Homo sapiens: one gene and its partner. The protein of the gene in region 1 purifies or fractionates together with the protein of each later gene. This does not show direct contact. Each region holds a gene or a part of one and is shown on either strand. Other genes may lie near its edges.

What was found.
Region 2: the proteins of LMNB1 (region 1) and CPSF7 purify together in Homo sapiens (affinity purification with mass spectrometry; one large-scale study listed by BioGRID and IntAct). This does not show direct contact.

The regions. Positions count from the first base shown.
Region 1 is NC_000005.10:126,782,749-126,787,902, reverse strand, and holds part of LMNB1 (lamin-B1), read right to left. Parts: intron 596-5,154; exon of another isoform or gene 580-595; intron 1-579. UniProt on the Homo sapiens protein: Lamins are intermediate filament proteins that assemble into a filamentous meshwork, and which constitute the major components of the nuclear lamina, a fibrous layer on the nucleoplasmic side of the inner nuclear membrane.
Region 2 is NC_000011.10:61,416,468-61,420,811, reverse strand, and holds part of CPSF7 (cleavage and polyadenylation specificity factor subunit 7), read left to right. Parts: intron 1-238; coding exon 239-342; intron 343-717; coding exon 718-863; coding exon of another isoform or gene 864-890; intron 891-4,292; coding exon 4,293-4,344.

The sequences.
Region 1 (5,154 bases):
AATACAATCCCCTTCCCCACCCCATGTATTAAATATATATATGGCTCCAGTAGGCCAGGTGCAGTGGCTCACACCTGTAATCCCAGCACTTTGGGAGGCCGAGGTGGGTGGATCACCTGAGGTCAGGAGTTCATGACCAGCCTGGCAAACATACTGAAACCCTGTCTCTACTAAAAATTCAAAAATTAGCCGAGTGTGGTGGCAGGCGGCTGTAATCCCAGCTACTTGGGACGCTGAGGCAGAAGAATCATTTGAACCCAGGAGGTGGAGCTTGCAGTGAGCCGAGACCACACCATTGCACTCCAGCCTGGGCAACAACAGGAGTGAAACTCTATCTCAAAAAAAAAAAAAAAAAATATATATATATATATATATATACCCCCACACACACACGTTATATATAACATATACTTCATATATAAGTAACATATACATAAAGTATATGTTATATATAACATATACATATAAGATGTATATATACACACACATACACATATATATGGCTCCAGTTATATAAATTATTTGACATTCAGGACAACTCACTCTCCATTTTCCATTTAGAAGCAAATCCCTACTTACCTCCCTGCACTTAGCTCAGATTCCCCTGGGATGTCTTTCAAAATTTCACACGGCTCCTAGCCTGCCTTAGGTAGCGGTCCTTGTTTCTCCACAGCAACACCTGGATACTGGCATCACAGCACTTAATATATTTTATTAGTATACTGCACTTACAGTATCACAATCCTGTAGTGTTGGTTTTCTGTCTTCCCCACTAGACTGTAAGTAACTTGATAATGGGGACTGAGTATCCCATTTCTCTATTCCCAGCATCTGGTTCAAGACCTGGCATATAGTACCTGTTCCACAAAAATGTGTCTTGAATAAAGAATGAAAGAACACCCTGTCATGAGTATTAAAGATTTATTTAGAGGTTTTAATTTCTTTTAAATTATTAAGGCATGGAATAAAGTTGGAAAGTAGCTTTTTAAGAAGAGAAAAAAGATAAAAGCGATCTCTTTCAGTAATTCATCTTCACCTTTCTTTAGCAAATGAAGCCCTCAGTATTTCAAACAGCTGTTTCAACTACTGACCACTACCCTTCTGACAAATCCAAAATTACCTCCCTTGAAGGCTACAAACTATCAACGTGAAAAACATGCAACTAGTAGCATTTCCAAAAGTAGCACCCAAAGGGATCTGAAAATCAACTATCCTATCTGAGACTTCAAGTACCAACCACAGATAATGATGCTCTGTGAGCCTGCTACATGTCGGTAAACCAGAGTAATACCTGTAGAACACTGTTGTATGGATGAAATAAGGTTATGTATGTGAACACCCTATCACAATGCTAGAAGTCAGGCTACCATCCTTTCTAGCTTTCATTACTTGCTAAGTAATACCAGGCAAAATACTTAAACTCTCTGAGCCTGAAGTTTCCTTACTCATCAGCAGTTATCATGAGCTTAAAAGATAATGTCTGGCCGGGAACGGTGGCTCACGCCTGTAATCCCAGCACTCTGGGAGGCCAAGGCAGGAGGATCACGAGGTCAGGAGATCGAGACCATCCTGGCTAACAGTGAAACCCCGTCTCTACTAAAAAATACAAAAAATTAGCCGGGCGTAGTGGCGGGCACCTGTAGTCCCAGCTACTTGGGAGGCTGAGGCAGGAGAATGGCGTGAACTCAAGAGATGGAGCCTGCAGTGAACCGAGATCGTGCCACTGCACTCCAGGACTCCAGCCTGGGCGACAGAGCCAGACTCTGCATCAAAAAAAAAAAAAAAAAAAAGATAATGTCTGTAAAGCATCTACTGTAATGCCTGGCAAACAGAATTGGCACAAAATAAATGTCAGCTTTTTTTTTTCCTGCATCTTTTCCCCCACCCCCCAAAGGGAGTCTTGCTTTGTCACTCAGGCTGGAGTGCAGTGGCACGATCTCGGCTCACTGCAACCTCTGCCTCCCAGGTTCAAGCAGTTCTCCTGCCTCAGCCTCCTAAGTAGCTAGAATTACAGGTGCCCACCACCATGCCCGGCTAATTTTTGTATTTTTAGTAGATACAGGGTTTTGCCATGTTGGCCAGGCTGGTCTCGAACTGCTGACCTCAGGTGATCCGCCCACCTCGGCCTCCAAAAGTGCTGGGATTGCAGGCATGAGCCGCTGGTCCCAACCTAAGGGTTGGGCCCAACCTAAGGCCCAACCAAGAATTTTCTTCTTGGTGTTTGTGTTTTCTCCTTTTCTATAATGAATATACATTTGCTGTTTAAAAAATTTAATTTTTGGCCTGGCACCGTGGCTCACACCTGTAATCCTAGCACTTTGGGAGGCTGAGGCAGGCAGATATTGCCTGAGCTCAGGAGTTCAAGACAAGCCTGGGCAACCTGGTGAAACCTCGTCTCTACTAAAATACAAAAAAAAAAAAAGAAAAAGAAAAAGAAAAAAAAAATTAGCCGACGTGGTGGCGTGTGCCTGTAGTCCCAGCTAATCAGGAGGCTGAGGCAGGAGAATTGCTTGAACACGGGAGGCAGAGGCTGTAGTGAGCTGAGATCGTGCCACTGCACTCCAGCCTGGCGACAGAGCAAGACTCAGTTATTAAAAAAAAAAAAAATTAATTTTTAGGCAGGGCACCGTGGCTCACACCTGTAATCCCAGCACTTTGGGAGGCCAAGGCGGGCGGATCACGAGGTCAGGAGATCGAGATGATCCTGGCCGACATGGTGAAACCCCGTTTCTACTAGAAATTAAAAAAAAAAAAAATTAGCCGGGCATGGTGGCGGGTGCCTGTAATCCCAGATATTTGGGAGGCTGAGGCGGCAGAATCACTTGAACCCGGGAGGCAGAGATTGCAGTGAGCCAAGGTTGTGCCACTGCACTCCAGCCTGGTGACACAGCAAGACTCCGTCTCAAAAATAATAATAATAAAATTAATTTTTAAAAATTCGGGCGGAGGGCAGTGGCTTACGCCTGTAATCCCAGCACTTTGGGAGGCTGAGGCGGGCGGATCACGAGGTCAGGAGATCGAGCCCATCCCGGCTAACACGGTGAAACCCAGCCTCTACTAAAAATATAAAAAAAAATTAGCCCGGCGTGGTGGAGGGCGCCTGTAGTTCCAGTTACTCAGGAGGCTGAGTGAGGCAGGAGAATGGCGTGAACCCGGGAGGTGGAGCTTGCAGTGAGCCGAGATGGCGCCACTGCACTCCAGCCTGGGCGACAGAGCAAAACTCCGTCTCAAAAAAAAAAAAAAATTCAAGCCAGGCACGGTGGCTCACGCCTGTAATCCCAGCACTTTGGGAGGCCGAGGCGGGTGGATCACGAGGTCAGGAGCTCAAGACCAGCCTGGGCAAGATGGTGAAACCCCATCTCTACTAAAAATACAAAAAATTAGCCGGGCGTGGTGGCACGTGCCTGTAATCCCAGCTACTCCGGAGGCTGAGGCAGAGAATTGCTTAAACCTGGAGGGGCGGAGGTTGCAGTGAGCCGAGATCGCACCACTGCACTCCAGCCTGGGCGACACAGCGAGACCCTGCCTCAAAAAAATAAAATAAAATAAAATAATAAAAATTCAAATGACAGCCGGCCAGGTGCGGTGGCTCACGCCTGTAATCCCCGCACTTTGGGAGGCCAAGGCGGGCGGATCATCCAAGGTTGGGAATTCCAGACCAGCCTGACCAACATGGAAAAACCCCAAGTCTATTAAAAAAAAAATACAAAATCAGCCGGGTGTAGTGGCGCATGCCTGTAATCCCAGCTACTTGGGAGGCTGAGGCAGGAGAATTGCTTGAACCCGGGAGGCGGAGGTTGCAGTGAGCTGAGATCGCACCACTGTACTCCAGCCTGGGCAACGAGAGCAAAACTCTGTCTCAAAAAAAAAAAAAAAAAAAAAAAAAAATCAAATGACAGCCAAAGCACAATCTCCTTATCAAAGAGGTACACTGTAAAAAGGGTTTAAAACTGATTTTAAAAACTTCCCTGATCCTAAAAATAATGGGACCTATACAGGGTCCCATTACTCAACTGATACCTGAGGCTCATTCTCAACATTTGTACATGAAAGAGACTTACACTAATGGCATAAAAAAAAAGTCTGAAGATTTCTAACTCAGACATATCAGAGGTGACACCATCTATACAAACGAAAGAATAAATATAACCAGCAACTGTGTAAAGACACAAAAAAGAAAAGACCCACCATATTTTAATAGTGCTTTATCTTTCATTCTGCCTGTTTACTTCCTTGAATCTGGGTATGCAAAATATTACCTAGTCTCATCCCCTAAGTTAAATAAACAACTCCAAAAGATCTTGCTTTATCAAACATCTTTTGAAAGCATGGGAAGGAAATGTCATGACAGTTTAATTACTTGGGACCTGCTTCCTAGACTTTTAAATCATTTTTAGGGGTTTGGTCCTTCCAAGTCTTCCCTTGAAAATTAAAGTAACATTTAACATAACTCTGTTATAAAAGAACTATGAAAAGCAGTTTAACTAGTTTTATAACTCTTATAAAGAAAACTAGTTTTATAACTCTTATATTTTAAGTTATAAAAATATAAAAGTTTGATAACTCTTATATTAAGGCCAAGATGTATACTGTCAATCTGCTTCAAATAGGGCAAAATCAGTACATTAAAAAAAGATATAGTAATACACAGGATGATGAAGGTTTGTTTTTTGTGGTTTTTTTGTTTGTTTGTTTTTGTTTTTGAGACAGAGTCTCGCTCTGTCGCCCAAGCTGGAGTGCAGTGGTACGATCTTGGCTCACTACAACCTCCACCTGCTGGGTTCAAGAGATTCTCCTGCCTCAGCCTCCCAAAGTAGCTGGGATTACAGGCGTGCACCACCACGCCCGGCTGATTTTTGTATTTTTATGGAGATGGGGTTTCACAGTGTTGGTCAGGCTGGTCTCGAACTCCTGACCTCATGACCCTCCCACCTCAGCCTCCCAAAGTGCTAGGATTACAGGCGTGAGCCACCACGCCCAGCCAAAGGTTTTTGTTTTTCAATTAATCATCCTATGTACAAAGAAAACACTCCTAAAGAAGATTAGCATGTTTTTGACCAGGCACAGTGGCTCACGCCTGTAATCCCAGCACTTTGGGAGGCAGAGGCGGGCAGATCACGAGGTCAAGAGATCAAGACCATCCTGGCCAACATG
Region 2 (4,344 bases), on another chromosome or scaffold:
TCAAAGTTACAATAAGTTTTAATCTTCGTAATCTCTAAAGATGGAGATTGGGGGTGAGTGGGTTTGGAATTCTGTATGGGTGAGGACAATAAGAAAAGTCTGCACTAATTGAAATATTGCCAGGCTTTTGAGTTTCCTCTGGGGGGACTTAGTTGTGACTAGAATCCTGGGTTTGGGACATTGGCGGGCGGGGGTGTAGCTCTTGACATCTCTTCCTTTTCCATCTTGCCGGCCCCAGTGGACCACAGACCAGCAGCTGATCCAGGTTATTCGCTCTATAGGAGTCTATGATGTGGTGGAGTTGAAATTTGCAGAGAATCGAGCAAATGGCCAGTCCAAAGGGTGAGGTCTGGATTTGAGAAGCCCCTTTTAATTTGTAACCATTGGGATAAAAGATCTGTACTATATTTTGGCCCTGGATTTTAATCACTCCCACCCCTGGCCCAGCTTACTGCCTTGGTTTTGGCAAACTGCCTTAGAAAGGGACCTAGCTGCAGTGTAGTAGAATATCCATCTGTTAAGGGGCGAAGAATACTGATTTTTAATTCCAAAAAAATAAAGATTTAGGCTGTCTCTTTGTTGTTAGTGCTGTATGTGTGTTTAGTTTAGCAAGATGTCCTTTGCTTTATCAATTTTTACTAAAAGTGGAAGAGAATTTCTTTTTTCTTCTCTTGGCTGTCTACAGATTTCATTCATTTTTAATTTTTCTTTCCTAAGGTATGCTGAGGTGGTGGTAGCCTCTGAAAACTCTGTCCACAAATTGTTGGAACTCCTACCAGGGAAAGTTCTTAATGGAGAAAAAGTGGACGTGAGGCCGGCCACCCGGCAGAACCTGTCACAGTTTGAGGCACAGGCTCGGAAACGTGAGTGTGTCCGAGTCCCAAGAGGGGGTACGTGGAGACCATCTGTATGAGGGGGGGGTGTTTGTGGGTTTGTTTTCTATGGTGTAGGCTTAGCCTACAGTGTGGGTGAGTTTGGGGGAGGGTGATGGTGGTTGTGAGTGGTGTCATGGTCGACAAGTAGTCCTCAGAATAGGTCTATATAGAAGAAAGAGCATTGTGCTGGGAGTCAAGTAGGTTCAGGTTGTAGTTTGGTTCTGCCACTGACTCGTGTGACCTTGGCCAAGTCACTTTACTACTTAGGGCCTGTTTCCCCATCTGGACTAGTGACATGATGTTTAAAGTTCCATCACCTCTAAATTCTGTGTTTCTGTCTAAAACTTGGCATTAGGTGAATGGGCTTAATTTTTAAGACATGCCTCTCTATAAATTATCAAGAAGCAGCCACCCTAAAATGTAACTAAAAGGTGCCTATAATCTTTTCATAAACGTTGATTGGAAGGATACTGTAAGGAATCAACCAAGAGGAGTGTTGGAGAATAAGACTTGAACAATATTTCTCCAGCATTGTCCAGGGGAGAGGGTGCTCTTTTGATTACCAAATGTTTTAGTCTGCTTGGCAGTTATATCCCATTAGTAAAGAAAGTTACAGGCCGGGCGCGGTGGCTCACGCCTATAATCCCAGCACTTTGAGAGGCCGAGGTGGGTGGATCACGAGGTCAAGAGTTTGAGACCAGCCTGGCCAACATGGTGAAACCCCATCTCTACTAAGAATACAAAAATTAGCCGGGTGTGGGTGACACATGCCTGTAATCCCAGCTACACGGGAGACTGAGGCAGGAGAATTGCTTGACCCCGGGAGACGGAGGTTGCTGTGAGCTGAGATCAGACCACTGCACTCCAGCCTGGGCAACAGAGCAAGACTCCATCTTGGAGGGAAAATAAAAAAGTTAGGGGCTGGGCATGGTGGCTCACACCTGTAATCCCAGTGCTTTGGAAGGCTGAGGCGGGCAGATACCTGAGGTCAGGAGTTCGAGACCAGCCTGGGCAACATGGCAAAACCCTGTCTTTACTAAAAATACAAAACTTAACCAGTTATGGTGGCACATGCTTATAATCTCAGCTACTCGGGAGTCTGAGGCAGGTGAATCTCTTGAATCCAGGAGGTGGAGGTTGCAGTGACCTGAGATTGCACCACTGCCTTCCAGCCTGGGTGACAGAGTGAGACTCTGTCTCAAAAAAAAAAAAGAAAAAAGAAAGTTACCTCAGAACTACCTTAGTTTGAGGACAGTTTCCCCAATGTCCATCTTACTCTCTTTATTCTGACTGTACTCACTAAGCCACTTTCTGATGCTAATTTGGTTTCCCAATTAGGGTCTCCTACTAGGAAGAGAATTCGCTGACCAGCCGACACAAGTATTCTGGTCTGCTTGGCAATTACATTTCTCATTGTAAATTAATAAATTGGTGTTATGGTTTATGAATCAGTCTCTTGTGAGTTTGGTTAGCATGAATCAGTCTCCTAGGGCCTAGTCACCCCAGTTGAAGCAAGTTTCTGAACCTGAGAAACCTGAGGACTAGACCTTGGATTTTCCTGACCTCATAAAGTGCAGCCACCCTGCAAGACCTTCCCTGAGACAGCCAACCACCCTTATTTTCTTTTGCTACAGTGGGAGGAACAGCAAAGTTTCATCACTGATGTTCTGTCACTGCTTAGGTCCAGCTCTCAAAATAGTGCCTTGTATTGATTGGGTGTATCCTCCAGGTAGAAATAGGACCACTTTGCTCTTGCATAGGAACAGCTGTTCTTTTAACTAGATTGACAGCCTAGATAGATTTGGTGTGAACTCTTGTTGTTCCATGTTAGAAAGGACACACTCTTCTTCCTTGACAAGTTGTATTTTCAAGTCCCCTCTGTTTTGGAGTCTTTCTGTAATTCACCCCTGACTTTCCTTAGGTATGTAATTTTACAACTGTATTGGGGGTAACGTTCTACTTCTACTCAGCTACTTTTCATGTTACTTTTTTTTGCTGAAAAGATTGTGTAACTGAGTGCTGTTTTTCTGCTCTGTCATGCTGATGGACCTGGGCTCTGTTAATTCACTAAGTAAAGCTGGTGGACTTCCTCTGCATAGAAATGTTGCGTCTTTTGGGACTTGTAGCCATAGATACAAAACAACCTTTGCAGATGTGACAACAGTAGTAGCTGGGAAAGTGGTTAACTGTCAGATGACACTTGCCTTATACCTTTTTGTTCTTCAGTTTGAGAGAACTCTAGGAAAGAGCCAGTTGCCATGTGTTTGAGACCTGAAGAACAAGACAGCACTGGCACTGTTCTGTAAGAGAAATCTAGGTGGTTGTCAACATAATTGATTCCACCTTAGGCTTTACTCAGGAGCTGGGATTAACTATCATATTCTAGTTTAAGGAGCACTCTTTCCTCCACACTTGCTGCCAGTGGCATCTTTCTATCTCCAAGACCCCCCCAAAGCCATGTGATCTTGTTCTTCTATTGGATTCCACAATAAACAGGCTTAGACTGTTAAACTGGAGAGAAGGAACAAGTTTAACCAAGTGACTTGACAATGTCAGAATCCATGCTTCCAGCTGTTTAAAACATGTTCTGAGCTCCTGTTGTGCACAGCACCATACTAGCATGTGGTGATGGTGTTCCTGTTAGGCTGCCCTGAAGGGTAGAGGATTTTGGCCATTGAAATGTAGCGGGAGTTCCCCAGATTGGAGACATGTTTTGTAGCAAGCTTTTGCTAAGCATCCTTACTGTCAGCTGTGTGCTATCTGCTTGTGCTGTGGGCGGATCTTTTATTGGCGTATCTCCCAATTTTTCTTATCTTTCACTTAACCTCCAGTTGTCTAGTCTTCATGTGTGTCTCTTTCTCACCCTGATTACTAGTTTTAGTATGTAAATAGAAGTGCCATCCAGTTCCTGCCACTCCCTCTCTTCCCTTAAATTCCCTAGCCAACACCCTGTGGCAAAGAGAACATTTTAAGTGTGCAACAGGAAGAGGTTAACTAGTATTAGTTTAAGGAGAGAGGTCCTGAACTCTTCAGGAGATGTGGGGTTTCAAGTCAACTGCAATTCACCTGAACATCAGTGAACACTGTCATTTTCTCGTGGGCTATCAGGATCCTTCTACATTTAAAAATAGAAGATACATATAAGGATAAATTAAATCTGTTCTGAAGCACTTCTGGAGTTATGGATGGAAAACATTCTTTGACAGGATTTAGGACGATATTGTTTTTTGGATTTAATGTCTTCACTGAGTTGCTTCTGACCTCTGAAGCCAAAAAAAAGGCAGTAGATGATTTTACCTTCTCAGCCTCTTTAGTCACCTTCCTTTGTAGGGTGTCTGATAACTTCTGAAGGATGAACTGGTCCTGTGGGTTTGTGTAAAGCCTGGGCAGTAACATCAGTTCTGTTTTGCTTCATAGGAATACCTCCACGGGCCCATTCCCGAGATTCTAGTGATTCTGCTGATGGACG